2 separate regions of the Homo sapiens genome follow, and region 2 is linked to region 1. A link means that fine-mapping ties the variant in region 1 to the expression of a gene that starts in the linked region. Tissue or cell type: whole blood. Region 1 holds a variant in brackets; the other region holds the start of a gene. All regions are shown on one strand. Distances are between the middles of the regions.

Evidence for each region. PIP is the estimated chance that this variant, and not a neighbour inherited with it, causes the effect.
Region 2: it holds the start of RCBTB1, and the variant in region 1 is fine-mapped to the expression of RCBTB1 in whole blood (INTERVAL, PIP above 0.99). The same link has a PIP of 0.9 or more in monocytes.

What each region holds. Positions count from the first base shown.
Region 1 is chr13:49,522,148-49,530,253 of GRCh38, forward strand. It overlaps SETDB2-PHF11 (SETDB2-PHF11 readthrough), which reads left to right. Exons shown (of 21, transcript NR_135324.2): 17 at 1,028-1,094; 18 at 1,938-2,069; 19 at 3,626-3,790; 20 at 4,240-4,311; 21 at 6,364-6,829. PHF11 (PHD finger protein 11) reads left to right here. Exons shown (of 10, transcript NM_001040443.3): 7 at 1,028-1,094; 8 at 1,938-2,069; 9 at 4,240-4,311; 10 at 6,364-6,829. The coding sequence ends at 6,518. Among named protein-coding and RNA genes, the nearest start is that of PHF11, 30 kb to the left of the region's middle. The variant T/A (reference allele first, on the strand shown) is at 3,807.
Region 2 is chr13:49,582,116-49,590,221 of GRCh38, forward strand. It overlaps RCBTB1 (RCC1 and BTB domain containing protein 1), which reads right to left and starts at 3,443. Exons shown (of 13, transcript NM_018191.4): 1 at 3,329-3,443. RefSeq lists a silencer at 2,967-3,676.

The DNA of each region.
Region 1 (8,106 bases):
CAGAGTCCTTATTTAAACCAGTCTGAATGTCAGGTGAAAGGTACTTTCCAAATCGTCCAAACAGAGAGCCTTTGAAGAACATTCTTCATTTGTGTTCTCAGCTAAGGCTGCTCCTGAGGTTGCCTTTTTAGGAAGAATCCCATAGTCGGGAAGCTCTTAGATAATTCCTAGATGATAGAATCATGATGAGATGAGCATGAAAATGAAGCTGGAAGTTCCAAGCACATAACCTTCAGGAGGTGACATTCTCCGAGCTCCTATAAATTCCCTGGCACCAAACTAGTGAGAGCATCTGACCCCACAGGTGCTTACAGTTAAAACGGGCAGAGGGTGCAGTCAAACATCCTTATGGAGCCAAGTATTTCCCAGCTGCATGACCCACACCTGACCAAATCTGTAGCTCTTATAAATTTCTGGATTATGTATAAAATGTATGAAAATATTTTGGGGATTTGAGTTTTTACACATCAGCACATATAAGCTAAATTCATATGCGCCAGCAACCTTCACCTCCTCCTGTTTATACAAGGGGTGCTTGTCAAACACCTCTTAATGTTTTATAATACAAAACAAAAATATATTTGATGTTTACATCTAAATATGAATATGGGGTTTTTTTGTTTTTTTTTTTTTTTGAGACAGAGTCTCTCTCTGTCACCCAGGATGGAGTGCAATGGTGTGATCTAAGCTCACTGCAACCTCTGCCTCCTGGATTCAAGTGATTCTCCTGCCCCAGCCTCCTGAGTAGCTGGGATTACAGGCATGCACCACCACGCCTGGCTAATTTTTGTATTTTTAGTAGCAACAAGGTTTCACCCTGTTGTCCAGGCTGGTCTCGAACTCCTGACCTTGTGATCTGCCCATCTTGCCCTCCCAAAGTGCTGAGATTACAGGCGTGAGACACCGCGCCCAGCCAGGGCATGATTTTTACTGTAGGCATATCATTTAGTTATGCACAGCAAAAGACTGGTTTTCATTTTATGCAATATTAAAATCAATGTAATGCAATCTTGATTTTCTCTCCTAGCCACCCGAAACAATGAAATGTAATACATTCATAAGACAAGTGAAAGAAGAGCATGGCAGACACACAGGTTTGCGCTAAGTGTTGTCTGTAACAAATATGGCCTACAATACTTATAAAAATGTCAACCCACCTGTTTCAAACTTGGTATCCCGCCTAAATCTTTATTCTTCTAGGCTTGTGGTAATTAATGAGTATAAATCTTTATCGCAACTGTCCACTCTATTGTAATCCCAGCATATCAAGATAACTTAGGTTGGAATGGTCCATTGCATTCAGTATTAAGAAAAGATAGACTTCTATTAATAAAGACACAGACAGGCTTGCCTGAGCTCAGAATCCAGCAATGTGTCACCCCTCACACTGTGACCCCTGTAACTGTAGTTCTCTGTTCTTTAAAGAAATAGACATTCCACTAACAACACATACAAACTGTGACAAGAAGTGACAGGGGCTGTTATGTCAAAGACTTAAGGGTAATTTTTAAAAATCCTCTTAATTCAACTACATATCGGGTACAGTGTACACTGCTCAGGTGACAGGTGCACCAACATCTCAGAAATCACCACTGAAGAACTTATCCATGTAACCTGAAACCACCTGTTCCCCAAAAGGTATTGAAATTTAAAAAGTTACAGTTTTATATGTTTAAAAAAGCCTCTTAATTCATATAGTTATTGTAAGCAGAGAAATTTTCATTTTTACTTTTTGTAACATTTTATTCATTGTTTCAGCTGGCCAAAAAAAATGAGGTATGATGAAATTATAATTAATAAAAAGGGTGAAGGTGCTGTATTATTTTACTAAGTATGTGCATCCACCACTAGGCAAGGTCTGAAGAAATAAGCATAAAGTAATTTATGATTAGCTGCCCTAAGACTATTTCCTTCTCAAATGTTTGTCTTATTCTTAGATGCAACTGTGAAAGTTCCTTTTCTTAAGAAATGCAAGGAAGCAGGACTTCTTAATTACTTACTTGAAGAAATATTAGACAAAGTTCATTCAATTCCAGAAAAACTCATGGATGAGACTACTTCAGAATCAGGTACTGATGAAGAGCAATATTTCGAAGTATAGAGACTTCTCCCAGATCTAGATTTAAAACAAAACAAACCCAAGAAAAAAAAAAAGGCCCATTTTCTTCCTATACTACTTTTTTCTTCTATCAGCTTTTGGAAATGCTTACTATTTATTTCACTTTTTGGTTTTGCCCTATAGAAAATAATCCCATTCAAATAAACATTTTTTATATTGTTGCCTACAATATAAGCTGTCCAGCTTGTCATTCTTTACCTTTACCTCATTCTTTTTTTTTTTTTTAAGACGGAGTTTCGCCCTTGTTGCCCAGGCTAGAGTGCAGTGGTGCGATCTTGCCTCACTGCAGCCTCTGCCTCCCAAGTTCAAGCGATTTTCCTGTCTCAGCCTCCTGAGTAGCTGGGATTTCAGGCACACGCCACTACGCCTGGCTAATTTTCTGTATTTTTAGTAGAGACAAGGTTTCACCATGTTGGCCAGGCTGGTCTTGAACTCCTGACCTCAGGTGATCCGTCCACCTCGGCCTCCCAAAGTGCTTGGATTACAGGCATGAGCCACCATGCCTGGCCCTTTACCTCATTCTTTAATAAAATAATTGGACCAGATCTACTATCCTTCATAAATCAACAGGATGTGGGTAATTTACAAACTCAGTAATTTAGTCAAAAGTAACCTCATGCCCTGAGAGTTGTGGTACATTTTCCAGAGGTGTCTAACAGGTTGGCCACTAAGAGAATGTGCCATTCAGAGATTGATTCGGTCACATATGCTCCCCTGCCACCGCCCTGCATTCCTGTTGCTAAGATCTGAGAACAGTGTTATGTTACAGTTTTGATTTTGGAATCCAATTCTATTCCTTAATAAGCCAAGTGTCCTTTTTTAAATAAGGTTAACTCAAACTTTAAAGTATAGAAGAAGGAATTTTAATGTTTTGACTGATGTTTGGTTTAAAGATGTACTTTGTTAAAGAAGTTTCTTTCTTAAGGGCTCTTTGGGAAGTCAAAGTTCCATTTGTATGTGCAGGTATATAGCTACTTAGCTTTTTGTTTGTTTGTTTTTGAGGCAGAGTCTCGCTCTCTCTCCCAGGCTGAAGTGCAGTGGCATGATCTCAGCTCATTGCAACCTCTGCCTCCAGGGTTTAAGTGATTCTCTTGCCTTAGTCTCCAGAGTAGCTAAGATTACAGACATGTGCCAACACACTCGGCTAATTTTTGTATTTTTAGTAGAGATGGAGTTTCACCATGTTGGCCAGGCTGGTCTTGAACTCCTGATCTCATGTGATCTGCCCGCCTTGGCCTCCCAAAGTGCGGGGATTACAGGTGTGAGTCACTGTGCCCAGCCTTACTTAGCTTTCTTATAACTTATATCCCATGAGTTTAAAACCTTTATTATAAATATAGTTATTTTACAAGGACAAGCTGGACAGCTTATATTGTAGGCAACAATATAAAAAATGTTTATTTGAATGGGATTATTTTCTATAGGGCAAAACCAAAAAGTGAAATAAATAGTAAGCATTTCCAAAAGCTCATTTATTATACTATTTTATTCATTTATTTCCTCTAGACCAAGCACTTCCCAAACAGTGTGCCTGAGAACCACCTGTAGGGCTGGTGAGGACACAGATAGCTGGGCCTATCCCACAGAGATTCTGATTCAGTACAAATACCAAGAATTGGGGGCCAGGCGCGGTGGCTCACGCCTGTAATCCCAGCACTTTGGGAGCCCGAGGTGAGTGGATCATCTG[T/A]GGTCAGCAGTTCGAGACCAGCCTGGCCAACATGGCAAAACCCTGTCTCTACTAAAAATACAAAAATTAGCCGGGCGTGGCGGTGCGCGCCTGCAATCCCAACTACTTGGGAGGCTGAGACATGAGAATCGCTTGAACCCAGGAGGCAGAGGTTGCAGTGAGCCAAGATCGCACCACTGCACTCCAGTCTGGGCAACAGGGTGAGATTCTGTCTCAAAAAAAAAAAAAAAAAAAAAAGAAAAAAGAGAAATGCCAAGAATTACATTTCTGACAGCTTCCCTGTAGTGCTGCTGCTGCTGTTGCCATCTAACATTAAAGTTCCATGGCACATGACTGCTCTCTTTCCTTTCCCCTGTTTTGGATTACATATATAAATGGAGGAGTTTCTGCCTATACAAACTGTTTAATATTGAAAATGTTTCTCTCCCTCCAGACTATGAAGAAATCGGGAGTGCACTTTTTGACTGTAGATTGTTCGAAGACACATTTGTAAATTTTCAAGCAGGTATATGAGTTATATAACATCTGAGCAGCATAGTTTTGAGAAATATTTATCACGATATTGAAACAATATACTGTACAGGTGATAAAAATATTTTAGAAGAATGTTCATTGTTTTCTTAAATGAGAAAAGCCAATTACAAAAACAGTATGACCCCGCCCACCTGCCCACACACACAGGAAAAAAATATCGAGGTACATGTGCACAGACAAAAGCTGCACCTGGTGGAGACAGTAGTTGGTTGTAGGTAGTTGGAATATAGTGATTTTTGTCTGTTCTTTTACTGCTATATTTTCCAGATTTTCTATATACACACAAATACTTTTATAATGAGAAAAACTCATTAAAAAAGTAGAGACAACAAAAAATTGATTCAAAAATTGGAGCATATTTTGGCCTGTGTGTGGCCCAGGCAGGAGCTGGTAAAGCTTCCTGCGGCTTCTCTGCTCTTGGGTGGCGAGGCTATGATAAACCATCCCTCCGCTTGCCTCCCTCTCGCTTGGTGAGATAGGTCAAAATTTTAATTCTCCCACTATTAATCCTCAAATCTAATTTAATTTCTTATCAGGGAGGGTTACGACTGATTTAAAGTTCATCAGAAAAAAAAAAAACAAAAACAAACAAACAAAAAATGAGCAAGTAAGAATAGCCAAGAAATGTTTGCAGTAGAAAATCTCGTTTGGTTTGGAGGAGGGAGATTTAACCTTCCTATTAAATATCAACCATTTATTGAGTGAGTCCTCCTTTCAGCATTAAGATGCCCTCAAGACAGGCTACACCTCCACTTGTTTATGAGTCTGGTCTGACTTCTCTATCAAGGCTGCCACACACAGCTGGGCAGGCCGGGCACAGAGTCAAACAGCATTGGTGGATGGCTCCCCCTGAAGTTGCACAACAGAGTGAGTGCCCTCCACACTCTGCATTTCCACAGATGCATCTGTCTCTCCAGCATATGGTAGGAAGACAATAAGATTTCCCTGTGAAGAAATCATTAGTTCATATCCCTGTCTCAACATACACAACCTTTCTCATTTTGGCTTCTATATTATACATTTCTATTTGAATTTTTTACTACATTTATAACCAGCAGGAAAAATACTTTGAAAAATCTACCAAAAAGAGTGTCTGTCTTAATAGTCTTTTGAGGATGTCTGCTAATATATAGCAGTATCCATATTTTTTTAAAGCAGCCTTAAAAATTTTTTTCTAAAAAGAGTTATTTTGTAGGGGACTTCCATGTGTGTTTTTCTTTCATGTAAGGGAACATGTCACACATCACTACTTGGATGGATTAGGTGGGAGTACATATATTATAGTGTAGTATGGCGGGGGTGCCACTACTTAGAACTGCATGAGATTCAACTTAAAAGGCTTAAGTTGGGTTTCACTACCCTGGTTGATAAAAACTTGCTTAATTTAGCCTTACTCATATTTTAAGTTAACTATACGTATGCAGTTATTCTGAATAAAGTTTGTATATGTGTGTAACTGTTCGATTTTGAGGCTTTTAAAAATTACATTGCCATTGACTACTATTTGTTATTTATAAAGCCTAAGTATCTTCCTCCTAAGCTTTTCTAAGTTTCCACAATTAAAAGCCTTCCTATTTCTAAATGAAACCAAAAGCCTTTATGTAACATTAAAAATTGGACACATTTTTAGGAAGGATTTGTCCTTAACCTTGGTATTCTAGCCACATTCTCCAATTATCATCTCTCAATAAATGGATATAGTATAGCATGAAGGTTATACAGTCACTGTTTTCAAGTTCTCAAAGATATACAAAGGGACTTGTTCTGCTATAAATGTGCACAAAATCTTAAGGGTTTACTGAACAGCTTTGTGTATGATAAATGTTAGAATTCTGTCCTGAATTAGAAGGAGGAAGTGAAGGCATAAAGAAACCAGCTCCTGCCCATAAGGCTCTGGATCCTTTTCACCAGAGGCACGAGGATTGTGTATCTGTACCTGCAAGTGAAAGGGGCTAGAAATGGTACATTATTTCTAATAAAACTACTGAATAAGCTGAAATAATTTTATTTCTTCTTTTCATAGCAATAGAGAAAAAAATTCATGCATCTCAACAAAGGTGGCAGCAGTTGAAGGAAGAGATTGAGCTACTTCAGGACTTAAAACAAACCTTGTGCTCTTTTCAAGAAAATAGAGATCTTATGTCAAGTTCTACATCAATATCATCCCTGTCTTATTAGGGATTACCGTTTCCTAAGCCAAGAGTCATGTCAAATTGCAATCAGGCTCAAAACCAGAGACCAGGCTGTGAAATCCACACATCTTTAGAACTAGTCGTCTCCTCTTGGCCTCAGCAGCTCTTCCCTGTTCTTACTGGTTGACATTTTGATCACTCTTTGCACACTCTTGTGTTTTTTGCTCACTGTCACATTCCCAGCACCTAGTATGCTCAGTAAATGTTTGTGGAATAAGTGCATAAAATGTTCTTAACCTTTGATTCTACTTACAGCCCATGATAGCCTCTTAGATATAATAAATTTGGATTATACTACTTTACTTGTACCAAATTTGCCTGTTTTCGTGTCACAAAGTCTGCTTTTGAAAAGTCTCTTTTCAGCCACAGTTATCACGTGGAGATTCATCATCTTCAAAACAGACACCTAAATTTTAAATTGGACTCTGAATAAGAACATTATCGGGAGTATGCAAGAATGAAAAAAAAAATTGACAGTTACATTTTTCTCAATCTAATATACGATTCTGGTTTTTATGCCCACACTATCACGTCTGACCCCTGAAAACTTAACATTCACAGTTCTCATTTTTTACCATGGTACTCTGATTTTCAATAATGCTGCGTCTCAAAATGGGTTTTAACTGAGTCTCCAAGCATGGTGTCTGACATGTAATAAATAAGTACTGGAAAAATATTTGCAGGAGATGAAAAAGAACAGTCCATTCCAGTTGTAATGGCAGCCCTAGCCTAAGTTCTTATATCTTAGGGACAAAATCTAAACCAGTGGATTTCAAATCCGGCCGCACATCAGAATCATGTGGGGCACTTTAAAAACTACAGAAGTGAAGACCCCATCCAACACCCTCTGAACAGATTTCCGCTAGTCTAGATGATTATTGATTACTGTAGCTTCAGCTTCCTATCCTGATATTAAGTCTTAGCAAAGTTTTTGGTTGTTGTTTTGTTTTGTTTAAGACGGAGTCTCACTTTGTTGCCAGGCTGGAGTGCAGTGGTGTGATCTCGGCTCACTGCAACCTCTGCCTCCTAGGTTCAAGCGATTCTCCTGCCTCAGCCTCCCAAGTAGCTGGGACTACAGGCGCGCACCACCATGCCCAGCTAATTTTTGTATTTTTAGTAGAGATGGGGTTTCACCATGTTGGCCAGGATGGTCTCGATCTCTTGACCTCGTGATCTGCCTGCCTCGGCCTCCCAAAGTGCTGGGATTACAGGCGTGAGCCACCACGCCCAGCCATCTTAGCAAAGTTTATCTGACTAATCATTCTGATGTCATGATCTTTATTTAAAAAAAAAAACCTTTGTCCCCCACTTTACTTTCACGTTTAACCTGTGACTCACACAGCATGTAACTGTGCACCATGGAGCACCATGTGTTTGGTGGCCATGAGGCTGGCTACTGGGCAAACCCGAGTATGGGTTCATAAGGCGGAGCCGAGTATGAACTTCAGCTATGTCACTACTGAAAAACTTGAATCCGATTATTTAATCTGAGAATGCTGCTGCCTACCTTATGGGACAAAATATGGACAAGTAAGTAAAATGTGAAGCAGAGAGCACAATGTCTGGCACTATGG
Region 2 (8,106 bases), 60 kb after region 1:
AGAAACATCAAAGAGGAGAGGATGTAACAACTCAATGGGCCTTAAGAAAGTAGCAGGGAATGGGATCTGAAGCAGAAGTGCAACAGAAGCGCCGGGCGCAGTGGCTCATGCCTGTAATCCCAGCACTTTGGGAGGCCGAGGCAGGTGGATCATCTGATGTCAGGAGTTCGAGACCGGCCTGGCCAACATGGTGAAACCCCATCTCTATTAAAAATACAAAAATTAGCTGGGCATAGTGGTGGGTGCCTGTAATCGCAGCTACTCAGGACCCTGAGGCAGGAGAATCGCTTGAACTCGGGAGACGGAGGTTGCAGTGAGCCAAGATCACACCACTGCACTCCAGCCTGGGCAACAAAAGCAAAATTCTGTCTCTAAATAAATAAATAAATAAATAAATGCAAGAGAAACTGTAGAAAGGAGCAAGTCTTCCTTTTCTTCCTTCCACAAGAGGAGGAGGAAAGGGTGAATGTGAATGAAAGCCAGTTTAAAGGTTAGGAATCCAGATGCTGGAGACATACTCATTCTCTCATTCTCATTCTCTCTCCCCGCTGAGTCTCCATTTTACATGCCCACCGGCAATGTACAACAGTGCTGCTTTCTCCAGTATTTACTGTCTTTTGTATTATACCCATCCTAGTGGATGGGAGGTGGTATCTCATGGTTTTGATTGGCATTTGGAGACCATTCTCTTCTGAGGTCACCTATTTTTCCCCTATGAAGAAAGAGTTAGGCTTTTTGCTAAGAGTAAGAGGGGAGGTAGCAATAAACAGTGGAGTGGAGGCCGGGTGTGGTTGCTCACGCCTGTAATCCCAACATTTTGGGAGGCCAAGGCGGGAGGACTGCTTGAGGCTAGGTGTTCAAGACCAGCCTGGGCAACATAGGGAGACCCTGTCTCTACAAAAAATAAAAAAATTAGTCGAATGTGGTGGTGCGCACCTGTGGTCCCAGCTACTTGGGAGTGGGGAGGATCACTTGAGCCTGGGAGTTTGAGGCTGCAGTGAGCTATGATCACATGGCACACTGTACTCCAGACTGGGCGACATAGTGAGACCCTGTCTCAAAAAGAAAAAAGTGGAGTGGAGCAATTGGGGGTAAAATGGTGAAGTCTGAAGCAGTCACCAGGGAGGATGGGAAAGAGCACTGAGCAGAGAAACCTAGCAGGATGGTAAGACCAAGCCCAGAGAAAGCTGGAGACCGTAAGTCTTTAGAGGTACCCATCTGGTCTCCTCTGTGAGCTTTTCTACCCCAGGAAAGAAGTGTGCTTTTGTGTATGTGTGTGTGTGTGTGTGTGTGTGTGTTTTAAATGTGATCTAACACACAGTTGACTTATATAATTATTTCATTAACTGATCTCCTCTACTAAGTCTATTCTGGCTAAATTCAGACAACACTCATCATACCCCTCTTGTGCATTCTTCAGCACGTACACAACATGTACTTTTTTTTTTTGAGATGGAGTCTCACTGTGTCGCCCAGGCTGGAGTGCAGTGGCACAATCTCGGCTCACTGCAACCTCTGCCTCCCCAGGTCAGGTAATTCTCGTACCTCAGCCTCCTGAGTAGCTGGGACTACAGGCGCACACCACCACGCCCAGCTAATTTTTTGTATTTTTAGTAGAGACGGGGTTTCACCATGTTGGCCAAGCTGGTCTTGAACTCCTGGCCTCGTGTAATCTGTCGCCTCAATCTCCCAAAATGCTGGGATTACAGATGTAAGCCACTGCGCCTGGCCAATATGTAACATTTTTAACTTTTTGTAAAACCAGAGAATATTTTGAAATGTGTCCGAATGCCCTGCCTAGATTCTAGACTCTGTGAGGCCCCAGCCTCCTTTCCTATGCATGACTTACTGTTTAATGTAGTACACACAGAAGGGATATCATCATCATAATAAAGGTCCTCACTTTCCTTCACAGTTTCATCTACCCCACAATGACTCCCAGGAAAAGGAGGGTACTGTTTCAGACTTCCCAGCTCCCGTATATTAGGTGGAGCCAAGTTCTTGCTGCAGCATACGGGCACGCTTTAAAATTTTCAAATCATTTTTTAAAAGCTACAAGCTTGACAGCTTTGGGTTTTTATGGCTACTTGTTTTCTGAAGTTCACAGAACTTTATCATTTGGATCACACACTTAAAAAAATCACTTGCAAAAATCTCTTTAAAGATGAATATGCTTCCTCTTCAAGAGAAACAGACTAGCGGGTAGAAGAAAAAGGACCCGTCTAGAGTATTAATAAATAGACTGATATTCACACAATGGATTAAATGGATTAAAGTCCATCCCACAGATGAACTGTTATATTAATAGAATCCAAATATACAGTTACATCCTCGACCCTGAAAGCAGTTTAAACGGGTGAAATTCACCCAGTGCTCACTTGAAATGAGTACTCTAAAGTTTAAAGCACCTATAAACTGCCCTCAGGATTCAATCATTTTTCCATTCCTTCCGGCATTATATACTTTGATGTTTTAATGTTATTAGCCCACAATACACACCAGTTTCAGAAACTCAGTTTTTGTCCTCTAAGGGCTTTTAGTCCTCCCAAAAAAAGAATAGGGCAAAAGCAAGGAAGATCATGAATCTGGTTTTCTAAAAGCATTATTACAAGACTGCTTTATAAAATTGTAATCCCCAGCTGCAGAGTTCCGCAGATGGCTTGAAAGTGTCTTACATGCAAATAAATAAAAACAAAAGGCCACTTATGCGAGCAGAACACAGCGTGCTCGATAGTCATCTTAAACCGAGCAGGTAGGTACTTTATCAGAGGCAGACAAGGGAAACGTCACTTATTTAGAGTTCACCGCACGCCTGGATAAAAGTCCTCACTAACAAAATCCCTGCCTTTGTGGATTCTGTGTCGGAAAGGGAAACGATAAAGAATACGGTTTGTGACAGCACTACTCTCAGGAGACGAAGGAGAGATGCTAAGATCTTGGAAAGGAGAGAGAATAGGAAGAGTCGGAGGGGAGATCTCCTCTCAGTAAAACGGCACCCACAGCAGTCAGACTTCAGCTACGAGCAAAATCGAGTCCGTGCACCTCAAAAAAGAGAGGGAGGCAGGGAAAACTTTCCCTCGCCTCTCCCCATCCTTCCCTCCTCCTCGCAGGAGAGCACATTAGCTGAGGTGCTGGCGGGGCCGGGCCGGGGACCCCATCCCTCGCCCCGGACGCAGCGCCCGCAGGGACTGCCCGGGAGCCCGAGCGAGGGAGGCGGGAGGTACAGGAGTAACGGGGCACTCCCGGCCCGGCCTGCGGGGAAGGGAAGCAGGGGCAGGGCCGAGGGGGAAGAGGCCTCCGCGAGCTCGACCCCGCGCCCACACGCTACCTGCGAGGTCAGCTGCTGCCGCGCCGTCCCGCGGGACCGCAGGGATCTCCGAAGCTCCAATGGGCGCAGAAGTGCGAGCGAGCGGCGGTGCCCACCGGCAGCGAAGAGGAGGAGCGCCAGGGCGCCGGGCCCGCCGGGTCACGTGGCCCCGGCCGCCTCACGTGACCCGGTGCAGCGCGCGCCCGGGACGCTACCCAGCCGAGCATCCCGCACCGCCCCGGCCCCGGCCCCGGCCGAAACCCTGCTCTTCGGGCCCTACAACCCGACTTCTTTAGAAGCCGATTGGCCGTCTCAGGCCCGCCCCGAGGCCCTGCCACTGGAGTGTCCCCATGAAATCCGGTGGCTGCTGCCGGGACTTAGAGGCTTTTGTGTCTGAGGAACCAGGAACGCGCGAGGCACGGGCTCCTGCTCTGCTCCCCGAGATGGCTTGGCTGTGGGGAGGGTCGGCCTACCACCCCAGAGACCTAGGACGGAAAAGCGACCGAGAAACTTGGCTCCCTGCCCACTCTAGAGCGCGTCTGGCCCCGGGGCACCACCCAGGTGGTGCTGCCTGGGAGGAAAGGCGGCGGAGCTGGGACTAGTTTGTTTTTACTGGAGACGCGCCTCCCTCCCTCCCCGCCCCTCACTTCCTGATTGAAAGTACCTGAGGCAGGCCAGGGACTAGGGAAGGTGGCAGCTGGACAAAGGTATGAAGGAAGGACGAGATGAGGCACAGGTCCTGGTATTGGAAAGAGGCAGAGGTACCTCGGAAGCATGCCATAGAGGTTAGACGGGACCTAAGAGGGCATCTGGTCCAACCGGATTCGTGTTACCAGCGAGTAAACTGAGGCCAGGAGAGGGACTGCTACGAGCTGCTCCAGCCTATCACCTATAAAGACTACAGTCCCTTTGTAAAATACCATACAGCTCTCGGAGAACTCCCAGTTGGCGCTGCAGGATAAAATCCAAACTTGTTGGCATAGCATTCCAGCCACTTGTTCACTTACCTTTCCCATTTGAGCTCCTAGGAATAAACAGAAAAACATTTCATTTTCTAAATATCACCAGATAACTTCACTTTTGGTAACTTGAATTATTAAAAAAGTCCTACCGTCCCTCATCTCTTGCCACTTCCCCAACATTACTGGAGGCTCTGGCTACAAATAATTTGTTTTCCTTGACTACTCAACTTTCTTTGGATTATTTACTTTTTCTCTAAGTTTCTTTACTCCTTTTTGCTTTGTTCATTCTTTTGTCTGTATCTGAAATGTCCTGAATCACCACCTCCCCCACTTAAAGAAAACCAGGGCCAATGATTAAAAAAAAAAAAAAAGGTATTAAGAAACTAATGCAATAAGAGAATTGAGCTTAGTTCTGTATCTATTCTGAGGTCTCGCTCCTGTTGCACTAGTTCCTGAATAAAATGTTTTTACCACTTCAACTACTGTTTGGCTCTGGTTTTCTTCAACAGCCTCCAAAGTACACATCAGTTTCCTACTCATCTTTCAAAATCCAGGTCAAATGCCGCCTACTCTTGTCTTCCCAGCATCCTCTTCCCTGATTTTTTAGCAATTGAAGTTCATCCAGACAGTGTCAGCTGCAACTTCTTCCCTGATTTCCAGAATACTATATATATTCTGATACACCTCACACTGCCCAGAAATAGACTGCGCATTTCCTGTAAAAGGTGAATTGTCTATTGCTGTCTTCTCCCTTAGATTATAAACTCTTTGAAACAGGATTCTTCTGGGTTTAGAACAGCGCCTGGCATGTGATAGACCCTTAATACTCACTGAATGAAGTGGCTTGCCCAAAGTAGTGGCAGTTGAGTGAATTTACTAGAAGAGGCCTGTTTTGCTCAAAGAAACTAAAATCAGTTTCTTTTGGTTGCAACCCGATCAAAAGAACTTGTGTAAACATGTCTGAGAGAAAAACGAGGGCATGGGGTGTGAGCAATCAAATATGTCCTGAGCCCTCACTGCTTATGTGTCAGATGCCATACTTGGAGCATCTTGGAGGATTAAAAGCTGAATGAGACATGGTTGCTGATAAGGAATGTGTAGTCTGGTTCATTATTCCAGTACAGGGTGAAAAGTATTATGATACAAGGTGCTAAGTGAACACAAACCAGGGACCACAAATCAGGGAGTCAGGGAGAAACTTCATGAGAAGGTCAGTTGGACAGGAAGTAGATAAGAAGAAAGAAAAAGACATTCCAGGAGAGAGCAATGTGTTCAAAAGTAGTGACACATGAAACAGTACTATTTGTTTAGGAAAAAACAAACAGGTAGGTGCAGTGGCTCATGCCTGTAATCCCAGGCCAAGGCAGGCAAATCACTTGAGGTCAAGAGTTCAAGACCAGCCTGGCCAACTTTGGAAAACCCTGTCTCTACTAGAAATACAAAAATTAGCCAGCTGTGGTGGCACGTGCCTGTAATCCCAGCTACTTGAGAGGCTGAGGCACAAAAATCACTTGAACCCAGGAGGCAGAGGTTGTAGTGAGCCAAGATCGCATCACTGCATTCCAGCCTGGGTGACAGAGTGAGACTCTGTCTCAAAAAAACAAAAACAAGTAACCCTATATTGATGCCTTGATGACTTCATTCACATCTAGGATAAAGGAAACCAAATTAGGTTAATTTTAATATACTTGAAAGAATGACATATTTACTGGTATTGGTGTTATTTATTGTATTGAATAACTTTCTATCAGGCACATCATAGGCTCTGCATCTAAAATTGGCCTAGGCCAGGCACAGTGGGTCACGCCTATAATCCCAATGCTTTGGGAGGCCAAGGTAGGTGGATTGCTTGAGCCCAGGAGTTCAAGACCAGCCTGGACAACATAGCAAGACGCTGTCCCTATAAATAAATAAGAATAAAACTGGCTTGGACTAACGCGAGGTGATTTTTTACCTTTTTTTCCAGCCTCAAAAGCTTTCTATGATTATTATGTAAAAATACCAAAATTACTTGTTCCAAAGAAGATGATTTTTTTTATTTTTTGAGACAGCGTCTTGCTCTGTTGCTCAAGCTGTACTGCAGTGGCATGATCATAACTCACTGCAGCTTCAACCTCCATGGGCTCAAGTGATCTTCCCACCTCAGCACCTCAGCCTCCTGAGTAGCTAGGACCACAGGTGAGGGCCATCAGGCTGGGCTAATTTATATTTTCTGTGGAGACGGGGTTTGCCATGTTGGCCAGCCTGGTCTCGAACTCCTGAGCTCAAGCAGTTTGCCTACCTCAGTCTCTCAAAGTGCCAAGATTACAGGTGTGAGCCACCATGCCTGGCCCCAAAGAAGATTATTTTAGAGCACTCCAAACCTTTCCTTTAGAGCAAAATAATTCAATTAACAGGTAGTACTTTAAGACAGAAACTGGGCTTAACCTCCAGCATGTGAAAAGGGAGAACCACTCCACTTAATGCTAACACATGATTACGTTGGGAAAAGTACCTGTCAAGAACCTAATAAAATATCATAAGGTTTGTCCGGACATGGTGGCTCACGCCTGTAATCCCAGCACTTTGGGAGGCCAAGGCAGGTAGATCACTTGAGGTCAGGAGTTTGAAACCAGCCTGGCCAACCTGGTGAAACCCTGTCTCTACTAAAAATACAAAAGTTAGCTGGGTGTGGTGGTGGGCACCTGTAATCCCAGCTACTCAGGAGGCTGAGGTGGGAGAATCACTTGAACCCTGGAAGCAGAGATTGCAGTGAGTCGAGATCATGCCACTGCACTCCAGCCTGGGCAACAGAGTAAGAGTCCATCTCAAAAATAAAATAAAAATAAAAAATGAATAAAATTGCTTCTTTGTCCTTTGGCAGGCAAAATAGCTTTTTTATTTTTTTATTTTTATTTTTTGACACAGGGTCTCGCCCTGTCACCCAGGCTGGAGTGCAGTGTCATGATCTCAGCTCACTGCAGTCTCCACGTCCTGGACTTAAGCGACCTTCCCACCTCAGCCGCCCGAGTAGCTAGGACTACAGATGCATACCACCACACCTGGCTACTTCTGTTTATTGTTTGTAGACACAGGATCTCACTATTTTGTCCAGGCTGGTCTTGAACTCCTGAACCCAACGGATCCTCCCACCTCAGCATCCCAAAGTGCTGGGATTACAGGTGTGAGCCACTGTACCCAGCCCAAGAGAGCTTCTTAATTATGGAATTTCTTCACTGTCCATGTCAGTTGATGGTGAAATGTTTATTTTTTATTCATTAGCAGTGGTCCTTGTTCCACCTGCATTTAGCTGTGGTAGCACCATGGCTTATTAGGAGGTCACCAACTTCTGGTGGGAGATACGCAGTCTCTAGTCTTCTGAGACATAGAAGTTCTGACTGCAATTGACTATGAAGCAGGACTGGTCCTCTGAATGTTAACATGCATCTTGAAGACTTCTTAGAGTGACCCTGGGATGATGATGGAGGTAGTAAGAATATTCTCAGATGGGGCTTGACTCACTCATTTGGAATATTAAAGGTGAAGTTACCTGGGACAAACTCAGTGACTTTATGAGGAAACAATCAGAGAAATACATAATAGCGGACAAGAACCTTTCTAGCCTTGGTTTCCTCAAAAAGTTAAATTTAGGGGGAAGGCCAGGCACGGTGGCTCACACCTGTAATCATAACACTTTGGGAGGCCAAGGTAGGCAGATCACTTGAGGTCAGGAGTTCGAAACTAGGCTGGCCAACATGGTGAAACTCCATCTCTACTAAAAATATTTTAAAACGTTAGCCCAGCGTGGTGGCAGGCACCTGTAATCCCAGCTACTTGGGCGGCTCAGTCAGGAGAATT